Linked DNA regions of Homo sapiens: region 1 is linked to region 2. The links come from fine-mapping of genetic effects on gene expression. A gene starts in region 2. The other region holds a variant in brackets. All regions are shown on one strand. Distances are between the middles of the regions. Region 1 overlaps SCAI (suppressor of cancer cell invasion). Region 2 holds the start of GOLGA1 (golgin A1).

The links.
Region 1: its variant is fine-mapped to the expression of GOLGA1 in whole blood (INTERVAL, PIP above 0.99).

What each region holds. Positions count from the first base shown.
Region 1 is chr9:124,995,489-125,000,868 of GRCh38, reverse strand. SCAI (suppressor of cancer cell invasion) reads left to right here. Exons shown (of 18, transcript NM_001144877.3): 13 at 879-978. Among named protein-coding and RNA genes, the nearest start is that of GOLGA1, 57 kb to the right of the region's middle. The variant TG/G (reference allele first, on the strand shown) is at 2,993.
Region 2 is chr9:124,938,219-124,943,598 of GRCh38, reverse strand. It overlaps GOLGA1 (golgin A1), which reads left to right and starts at 2,516. Exons shown (of 23, transcript NM_002077.4): 1 at 2,516-2,628; 2 at 3,444-3,493; 3 at 4,733-5,022. The coding sequence starts at 4,888. It overlaps SCAI (suppressor of cancer cell invasion), which reads left to right. Exons shown (of 18, transcript NM_001144877.3): 18 at 1-991. RefSeq lists silencers at 2,082-2,141, 2,472-2,841 and enhancers at 1,923-2,423, 2,424-2,924.

The DNA.
Region 1 (5,380 bases), 57 kb before region 2:
AATTTAGTGGGAAAAGGCTAACTTCAGAACCAGAACTAAAGTGCTTGATACAATAGTGATAATAATGGATATTTGCACGCTGAAATCTGGCAATACATTCTTAAAGGTGAAGTTTTTGTGAATGAGAATTTTCAAATTCTATTCAAATATTTTTCTAAGTTTTACAGTTAGTGGCTCATTTAAAATTGTATTTACTTATGAGACTAAGATTTCATTCTTTAAAAAAAAAAAAGCTTATTTTATTCTGCAACTTCTTTTTTTTTTTCTGAGACAGGGTCTCACTCTGTCATGCAGACTGGAGTGCAATGGTGTGATCATAGTTCACTGCAGCCTGGGAATACAGGCACCTACCACCATGCTCGGCTAATTTTTAAAATTTTTTTGTAGAGACAGGTCTCACTATATTGCCCAGGCTGGTCTGGAACTCCTGGCCTCATGCAGTCCTCCTGCTTCAGCCTCCCAAAGTGCTGGGATTACAGGCATGAGCAACCATGTCTGACCAACTTCCTTTTAAAATAATATTGTTAAACCTGAGATTTTAAGTTTGCTTGAAATGTAAAGGTCATTTTGAACATCCCAGATCTCCATTCCTTTTATTACTTAGAATAATGATGCCATAGAGTCTTGTTTTGTTTCTCATTATATTCTGTTTGAAGAACTGCTGAATAATTAAATGTTTTTTAAAATGTTGAAAATGACAACATACTGAAGTCATTTAAATACTCCATTAAATTAAAATGTTAAATTTTAAAATAATTTAAATGTGTAATTATCTTCGCTTGAATCAATGAGAGATTCACACAGTACCTTTGTATTTGAACATCAGGTCAGTGTTAGTCTTCAACTGAAGTCTAGGATTCTTCCCTTTGTTTTTATAGGTCCTTATGATTTTGGAGGTGTACTTACTAATAGTAACCGGGATATTATTAATGGAGATGCCATCCACAAACGAAATCAGTCCCACAAGGAAATGCACTGGTATGTATTCTGGTGTCTACTCTTATTATAAAAATTATACCTCTGTCTATAAATAGAAAAAATATTAAGTAAAATGGGGAGTTTTTTCTAGTACTAGAATGATTCCCTTAGACTAAGATTTAGGGACAGACCAGAAACACTTATTTGGATTCCAGCAATAATTCAGGCTCTGTCTATCCTAGGAAATTAGAACTTTTGGTTGATATTCATTGAATAAATATGTTACACACTGTTTAGTCACTAGGGATATGTCAGTGAACAAAATTGCATTCTAGTTGGAGACAGTAAATATATACATAAATAAATAATATGTCAGGACATTATACATGTAACATCAATACGAACTTTTAAACAAATTTTTTTCTTGAGATGGAGTCTTCCTCTGTCACTCAGGTCAGTCTTGATTTCCTGGCCTTAAGTGATTCTCCCACCTCAGCTTCACAAAGTGCTAGGATTACAAGATGTGAGCCACTGTGTTCAGCCCAAACATTTTTTTTTTTTTTTGAGATGGAGTCTTGCCCTGTCACCCAGGCTGGAGTGCAGTGGCATGATCTCGGCTCACTGCAACCTCTGCCTCCTGGGTTCAAGCGATTCTCCTGCCTCAGCCTCCTGCGTAGCTGGGATTACAGGCACCAGCCACCATGCCCGGCTAATTTTTGTATTTTTAGTAGAGATGGGGTTTTACCATGTTTGTCAGGCTGGTCTTGAACTCCTGACCTTGTGATCCACCTGCCCCGGCCTCCCAAAGTGTTGGGATTACAGGTGTGAGCCACCGTGCCCGGCCACATTTTATTTTATTTTATTTTTTTAATTGAAAAATAATCATTGTAAATATTCCTGGGGTACTTAATGATGTTTCTATATTTGTAATGTATTGTGATCAGATCAGAGTAATTAGCATACTTATCATCTCAAACATCCATTCCTTGTGTTGGGAACATTTAATATCTTTTTTCTAGCTATTTATGATAAAGGCTGATAGCAGTGGCTCACACCTGTAATCCCAACACTTTGGGAGGCCGAGATGGGTGGATCACTTGAGGTCAGGAGTTTGAGACCAGCTTGGCCAACATGAAACCCTGTCTCTACCAAAATACAAAAATTAACCGGGTGTGGTGGCTTGCGCCTGTGGTCCTACCTACTCAGGAGGCTGAGGCAGGAGAATCACTTGAACCCATTAGGTCGAGGTTGCAGTGAACTGAGATTGTGCTCCAGTCTGGGTGATAGAGCAAGACTCTGTGTCAAAAAAACAAAAAAGAGAAAATAAAAACTATATAACATATTATTAACTATAGTCATGCTACAGTGGTATAGAACACTAGAACATATTCCTTCTATCTAGCTGTAATTTTTTAATCTTTAACAATCTCTTCCCTATACCTCCGTTCCCCGTTCCCCTACCCTTCCCAACCTCTAGTATTGAGTTTGTTTTTTTTTTGAGATGGAATCTTGCTCTCATGCCCAGGCTAGAGTGCAGTGGCACGATCTTGGCTCACTGCAACCTCCATCTCCCAGGCTCAAGTGATTCTCCTACCTCAGCCTCCCAAGTAGCTGGGATTACAGGTGGCCACCACCACGCCTGGCTAATTTTTTTATTTTTCATAGAGATGGGGTTTCGCCATGTTGACCAGTCTGGTCTCGAACTCCTGACCTTAGCCTCGGCCTCCCAAAGTGCTGGAATTACAGGCATGAGCCACCGCGCTGGGCCTGAATTTTTTAATACAAGGTTTTGTTGGTTTAATATAGCACAAATGAATGTTGTTACATGATTACAAATAGAACTTCAGGCCAGGAGCAGTGGCTCATGCCTATGATCCCAACATTTTAGGAGGCTGAGGTAGGAGGATCACATGAACCCAGGAGTTTGAGACCATCCTGGGCAACTTAGTGAGACTCTGTCTCTACAAAAACTTAAAAAAAAATTTTTTTAAATGCAAAAAATACAAAAGCAAATAGAATTTCATCTACAAAAGTTCTTTTTCTTTTTTCTTTTCTTTTCTTTTTTTTTTTTTTT[TG/G]AGACAGAGTTTTACTCTGCCGCCCAGGCTGGAGTGCAGTGGCACTATCTTGGCTCACTGCAACCTCTGCCTTCCGGGTTCAAGCGATTCTCCTGCCTCAGCCTCCCAAGTAGCTGGGATTATAGTCATGCATCACCACACCCAGCTAATTTTTGTATTTTTAGTAGAGATGGGGTTTCACCATGTTGGCCATTCTGGTCTTGAAATGCTGACCTCAAGTGATCCGCCTGCTTTGGCCTCCCAAAGTGCTGGGATTACAGGCGTGAGCCACCGTGCCTGGAGTTCATTCTTTTTCTAAGCATAACAACTTCATTGCTTGGGCTGTTATTGGCTCATTGGCTCTAGAATTTTTCTAGCTGAGAGCAATCTGGTTATAAAGAAAACTGGACTGGTCTAAAACTTTGTTTCTAATACATATTGAATATCCCTTATCTGAAATATGTGGGACCAAAAGTGTTTCGGGTTTTGGATTTTTCCAGATTTTGGAATATTTGTATATAGATAGTAAGGTACCTTAGGGATGGGACCCATGAAATTGACTTGTGTTTCATATACAACTCATACACATTGCCTGAAAGTAATTTTATTTTTCCCTTTGAGATCCTGGATAAACTATGTGTTGTGCACCTGCATGACTATGATCCATCATGTGAGGTCAGGTGTGGAATTTTCTACTTGTGGCATCGTGTTGGCTCTGAAAACTTTTTGGATTTTGGAGCATTTTTCGTTTTGGATTTTCAGATTAGGAATACTGAACCTGTATGGCATGATCACTTATATGTGGAATCTGAAAAAGTTGCACTCAGAAGCAGAGTGCAACGGTAGTTCTGAGGAGCTGAGGATTGGGGAAAATAGGGAGATGTTGGTTAAAGGGTGCAGCCTCTCAGTTGTAAGATAAATATCATTTAAAGTACAGCATGGTGGTGATAATTAAAAATACTATATTGGCTGGGTGCAGTGGCTCAGGCCTGTAATGTCAGCACTTTGGGAGGCCGAAGTGGGCGGATCACTTGAGGTCAGGAGTTCGAAAACAGCCTGGCAACATGGTGAAATCCCATCTCTACTAAAAATACAAAAAATTAGCCGGGTGTGGTGGCATGTGCCTGTAATCCCAGCTACTTGGGAGGCTGAGGCAGGAGAATTGCCTGAACGTGGGAGGCGGAGGTTGCAGTGAGCCGAGATCATACCACTGCACTCCAGTCTGTGTGACAGAGCGAGACTCCATCTCAAAATAAATAAATAAAAAAAAATAAATGAAAATACTGTATTGTTGGACCGAGCATGGTGGCTCATTCCCGTAATCTCAGCACTTTGGGAGGCTGAGATGGGAAGATTGCTTGAGTTCAGGAGTTCAAGACCAGCCTTGGCAACATAAGAGGATCTTGTCTCTACTAAAAATGTAAAAAATGAGCCAGGCGTTGAGGTGCACGCCCATGGTCCCAGCTACTTGGGAGACTGAGGCAGGAGTATCACTTGAGCCTGGGAGATCGAGGCTGCAGTTAGCTATGATCTTGCCACTGTACTCCAGTCTTGGTGACAAAGTGAGACCCCATCTCAAACAACAACAATAACAAAAATTGTTGTTTACTCGAAATTTTCTGAAAGAGTAAAGCTTATGTGTCCTCTCTGCCCACTGCCCCCAGCACCACCCCCCCACCCCCGCCCCACCGCCCACACACACGAAGGGTAACGGTGTGGGAATGGAGGTGTTGATTAATTTGATCGTGGTAATCACTATACATGTATGCATTAACAAGTCATCACATTGTATACCTTGAATATATACAATTTTTATTTGTCAATAAAAGAAAAACTTTTATTTGAAATATAATGAAGTTTGATGATATTGCTCAGTGAAACATTCATAAATTTACATTTACATTAGTATCTATCCACATATGCACATCGTGTACTCAGTCATCGGAAAGAGCACGCACACCAAGATTCTGACCTTACGCATTGGCTCTCACATGCATGTTACTGGATTTCCGCCTTTGGGTTCAGTAGCTCTTCTGTGGGCCAGTCAAACTGCATGTTTAACAAGCCCTTGATGCAAATGTTTAGAGGAAACATATGGTAAAAAGTAGCTGGGCACAGTGACTCATGCCCATAATCCTAGCACTTTGGGAAGCTGAGGTGGGCAGATTGCTTGAGCTCAGGAGTTCGAGACCAGCCTGGGCAATATGGAGAAACCCCATCTCTACTAAAAAGAGAAAAATTAGCTGGTTGTGTTGGTACATGTCTGCAGTCCCAGCTACTCAAGGAGGCTGAGGTGGGAGGATCACCTGAGCCCGGGACATGGAGGTTGCTGTGAGCTGCGATTGCACAACACCACTGTACTCCAGCCTGGGCCACGGAGCAAGACGGTGTCTTTAAAAAAAAAAATA
Region 2 (5,380 bases):
TACTTTTTAACAATTGTGCTTGTCTGTAACTGAAATGTTATAGAATTTTAACACTATAGGGATTATAGAGTTATATTAGCTCTCCTCAAGAGACTGAAGCACAATATTTTTCATGTAACAATTCTTATCCAAGTGCTGCTAATCTGTCGTGCAAATAATGAAGCTATTTGGTTGCCTATTTAGCTATTCACAAATCACTGTAATCTTTGAAACAATCTTGTCGTTCATTTGTATTAATATTTGGATATTGTGAGTTAATACTTTAGAAAAAAATCCATCAACTCAGCCCCGTTAGCAAAACTGTTTGGATTCATAGTTTTTATATGTGTTAACAGTAGAATAAATTTTGAAGGGGCTATTTACTACCAATGACTAAGGGGAAAATTATACTGTCACTATCATTTGACTTGAACATTTGTGGTATTGTAAAAGTCTTGTCAGTTGTGTTCTAAATTGCTTAAGCCATACGTTCTCTTAAACAGGATGTTTTTTTCTTCCTTTCCAGCAGCCTTTTTCTTCTTTGTCTGTTATGGTTAATACTCCATAGATTTTAGAAATTGAGAAGTTCTTGAAACATTTTATTTTCTTGAGTTCATCACTTTTGACTCTTGTATGAGATGTGATTTGTCATAAAAGATAGCCTTCCACTACTTCACTAAATGAATTTCAGAGTAAACACTGTGATTCTGCAGAGCGGATTCAGTAGGCTTTCCAATGTTTTCTCCTGCTATACAGTGCCTACCACCTTGAGGGCACTTCAGTACTAGAGGATGAAAACTGAAACGTTGTTTTGATGTTTATTGAATAACGAGATTAGAGAATATTTGATTTTTGTTGTCAGTGTATTAAAGAAATTTTCACATTGATAAATGTTCTCTAGGAATGTGTCTACATTCATCAGGTGTGAACTCTTGTACATGAATTTTGTACCTTGAATCCACATATATATTAAGTGTATCATCAATATAAAAATAAACATTATTTGCTTAAAGTTTTTGGTACTTTTTCGGTATTGACAGCTGAACTGTTAGGGTTTGCTTCATTCAAATATCTCAGAGGCTTTGAACTATCTTGGGGTTGATGCTTCTTGTTAGTTTGTCAATGTTTGAATCCTGGTTTTGGTTTTTTCCCTGCCCTGCTCCTGCAGGTCAGAACTGGAACACGCGAGGGAAGGGACTGTTGAAGAATTGGGTGGAATCTGCTTATTCTTGGGCTTGTGTTGAGTCTGGGGATGGAACCAGAGTTCCTTAAGGTGGAATGGCTGGCTTGGCATTGACGAGTTCAGGGACCTGACTTAGGGTACTGATTTGGACCGTGACTTTTTGTTTGAGATAGAGTTTCGCTCTTGTTGCCCAGGCTGGAGTGCAATGGCGCGATCTTGACTCACTGCAACCTACACCTCCCGGGTTCAAGCGATTATCCTGCCTCAGCCTCCCAAGTAATTGGGATTACAGGCATGGGCCACCATGCCCGGCTAATTTTGTATTTTTAGTAGAGACGAGGTTTCGCTATGTTAGGCTGGTCTGAACTCCTGACCTCGGGTGAACCACCCGCCTCGGCTTCTCAAAGTGTGGGGATTACAGGAGTGAGCCACCGCGCCCGGCCTGGACTGTGACTTGGAACAAGATAGTTTTTCCTCTTTTGTTTATTTTCCTACTGCCTGCATGATTGCTATTTATTTAAAGAGACGGAGTCTCGCCACGGTGCCCAGGCTGGTCTGGAAGCCCTGGTCTCAAGAGATCCTCCCACCTCGGTCTTCCGAGTAGCTGGGACCACAGAAGCGCGCGCCGTGCACTTTTGATGTTTTCAACTTCCTTCCTAAGCAGAAAGGAGACGGCCCAGCAGCGGATGGTGAAGCTAATCCAATATAGTGAGCTGCCACCAGCGTTTTTAAGTGCATTACATAGTAAGAACGTGGTTCTGCTGGACGTTATGTACTCGGTTGCGATATAAAACGCATCATCTACAGTAGGTGACAGGCGCCAAAGTCTAAAAACTGGTCTCAAGGTGTAAGGTCCCAGGACTAGTTTCTGGAGCTACTGGCTTGTGAGTGAAGCTGGAGGCGCAGACTTCCCGGGTCACACGGTGGCAAGGCAGCTGCCTAGGGTGCGGCGGGACCGGGCGGCGCGGGGGGGCGCCTGGCCAAGCAGTGCAGCCCCGGCCGGGTTTGTAGCCAGCACAGCACAGCGGGGCCTGTGGCACCGACTGGGTTCTTTTACTTTTGACACGAAGCCCCTCCCACTTACCACGCTCTGCACGCGCCCCTGTTAAAATAGAAAAAGACCGAGAGGCCTCGGAGACTCAGTCATCATCTGTGGCTCTGGCCGCTCGCTGACGTGGCGAACTGGGCTGAGGGAGCGCCCGGCTGGGCACCCGAGAACTCCAGCCGTTCCGGCCCAGTCGCCGCTCAGAGGTGGTAACAGTAGCCGCCAAGGCCGCGCACGGGCGCATGCGCGCGTCGGACCAACCCCCTCCCCCCACCGCGCAGTCACTTCCGGCGCGCTGGGAGACGTGCGGTTCCGGGTCGCTGCTCGGCTCGCCGGCTGGGCGGTGGGGGTTGGTGACGCGGGCCGGGGCTCACGAGAGGCCCGGGAGGCGGGGCTTTGCTGGCTTCCCAGAGAGAGGCAGGTGCGCGGGCCAGGACTCCGGGAATGCGAGCAGGCCCCTTATTCTCCCAGTGGCCTCGGTCTGTCCCCACAGCGGCCCGGTCAGGGTTGCCCGAGCCCCAAGGCGGGGGGCGGCACCGGGGTGCTGAAAGGGTGAGAGTGGGGGCGGAGGCGGGCTGCCCCGGCCTGGGAGTCTGGAGCCTAGGGTTCCGGGATTCCTCCCTGCGCGACCTTGGACAAGTCGCTCCTCCTCTCTAGGGCTCAGTTTCCTTGCTGTCAAATGGGAGAGATGTTGGATCCTTCCTTTCTTTGACAGTCCAAAGCACGGGCGGGGCTGGAGGTAGCCTGAGGGAGTGAGATCCAAACTGCCGTGGCAGGCACCTGCCTGCCTCCCTGGGGGTTAGACATCTGTCTTTACCCAATTTTGCCTTGCTTTTTGTCAGTGCACATCCGTGACCAGACGCCCAGGGTCTGGCCGGGTAAACAGTATGTGAGTGTAGTAATCAACTGAGAAATAAATACTGGCTCCAGGAAAACTTAACCTCATTCAAATTGTTTTGCTCAGGGCTCCCAGGGAGAAGTGAATTTAGGCACCCGCTGCGGTGATCAATTCTGTTCTATGCGCTTGTAAGTGAAGCTCTTAGGCAAAAAACAATTTCATAGGAGATCAGGGTTAGGGAGGGTATCCCATTGAGAGTTGTGACAGGTTTTCTTACCCCCTTTAATCCTTCTTCTGCCCCTCCTCTTCCTTCACTTCTTCCCCCTATCCCCACCCAACATTTTGGCCATACACTTGAAAAGAAATACCCAATGCATTTTATCTTTGTCTTCATGCAGGACAGAATGCTTTGACCTCCAAGCTGTTTTAAATCTAGTAGATAAGCCAGGTGAGTAAGTGGTTTACACACATTGAAAGTAAAGTTTCTGAAGAATTGTACAGCCTTAATGGAGGATCTGAAGTGGTAAGATGGCATTTGTGTATCTCAGAGCAGAGCTTAGGTATCCTCCACAAAACATGGAAAGTTAAGGTTGGAACCAGAATATTAGTGTTTTATACACCATTAGGAGGAAAAGGTTTTTGAATCTTACTTTGAATATCATGTCAAACATTCTTAAGAAAAGAAACTGTGAGGCCGGGCGCAGTGGCTTATGCCTGTAATCCCAGCACTTTGGGAGGCCAATGCAGGTGGATCATCTGAGGTCAAGAGTTTGAGACCAGCCTGACCAACACGGAGAAACCTCGTCTCTACTAAAAATATAAAATAAGCCGGGCATAGTGGCGCATTCCTGTAATCCCAGCTACTCGGGAGGCTGAGGCAGGAGAATCGCTTGAACCCAGGAGGTGGAGGTTGCGGTGAGCCGAGATAGTGCCATTGCATTCCAGCTTAGGCAACAAGAGCGAAACTCCATCTCAAAAAAAAAAAAAAAAAAAAAAAAAAAAAGAAAGAAAGAAAATAAACTCATTGGAGGTAATTTTATCAAACTCAAAACCACACAGCGTCTCTAGAAAATGTTCAAGGATATCAGATACTTATATAATAGAGTTGTCTGGTGTGTCTTCTTTTTTCTGTTACCAGCTTTTCCTATTGGACAGTTGATTGCAAACCATCCTGAAACAGTAGGATATTACACCTTTTACATATTGAATTACATATTGAATATTGAATTACATATGAATTGAATTACATGCATTTTTGTCTTCAACTTAAAGAACACTAAACTGTAGTTAAGCTTATTGGAGGAAGGATTTGAAATCATTAAGTCATGAATATATGATGTTGATGTCTGCTCTGGGACATTTTACCAAGTGTGTTATATGTCATAGCCAACATGTAATTAAAAAAAAAAAACGTAGAGATTTGTGAATCAGAGTCCTCTGTTCAAATACCAGCCCTTCCACTTAGCCACACAATCTTTGGTAGGTTACTTCATCTTCTTGAGACTGGGTTTCTTCATCTGTATATGCATATGAAGCACCTGAGTGCTTTTTAAATGTTTAGTAATTGTGTTCTATAAGTGTACATGTAAGTTATGAAACTTAGTTTTGAAATCTAAAACTTAACAACTCAGATGCGAAATCTTTCCAATGTTTAACTTTTGAACTGTCTCTTTCATCTGATTTGTAGATCCTGTGTTGCCATAAGCCCTTGGCCCACATTTAAGTGGGAATGCAGCTAGCTTGGATGTCTGAAACTTTGTAGGCGCCTCTGTCTGAATCCTGAACACAGGCACCAGGACTACTGAGAGCTCGTCATCTGTGCAGGATAGCCACACAGCAAACATGTTTGCAAAACTGAAGAAGAAAATTGCAGAAGAGACTGCTGTTGCTCAGAGGCCAGGAGGTGCTACTAGGATCCCACGGTCTGTGAGCAAGGAATCAGTTGCCTCAATGGGAGCTGACTCAGGAGATGACTTTGTAAGTACCTTTACTTAAGAAATAAAGATACTTTTGCAGGGTATTCTTCCAATAAATATTTTAAATTGCTTGATTATTTCATACCTTTCATGGTTTATAGCTGTACAAGAGCCTGTACATCTGATTCTTCTTACTCTGAGGTACCTTTTTGTTAATGTTTGGTTTGTAAATGTTAAGGTACTCTATATTTTTTTCCTTATTTTTCTGTGAGTTCCTCTCCATATTCTCTCCAGTGTCCTCTTGTACTGTTTTTCCGTCTATATACCTTATACATCTTCTTTTGCATTTCATTTCTGAAAATGTCTGGGCCTGTTTTCATTGCAGACATATATACTTATATAACAACTAAGTCATTGCT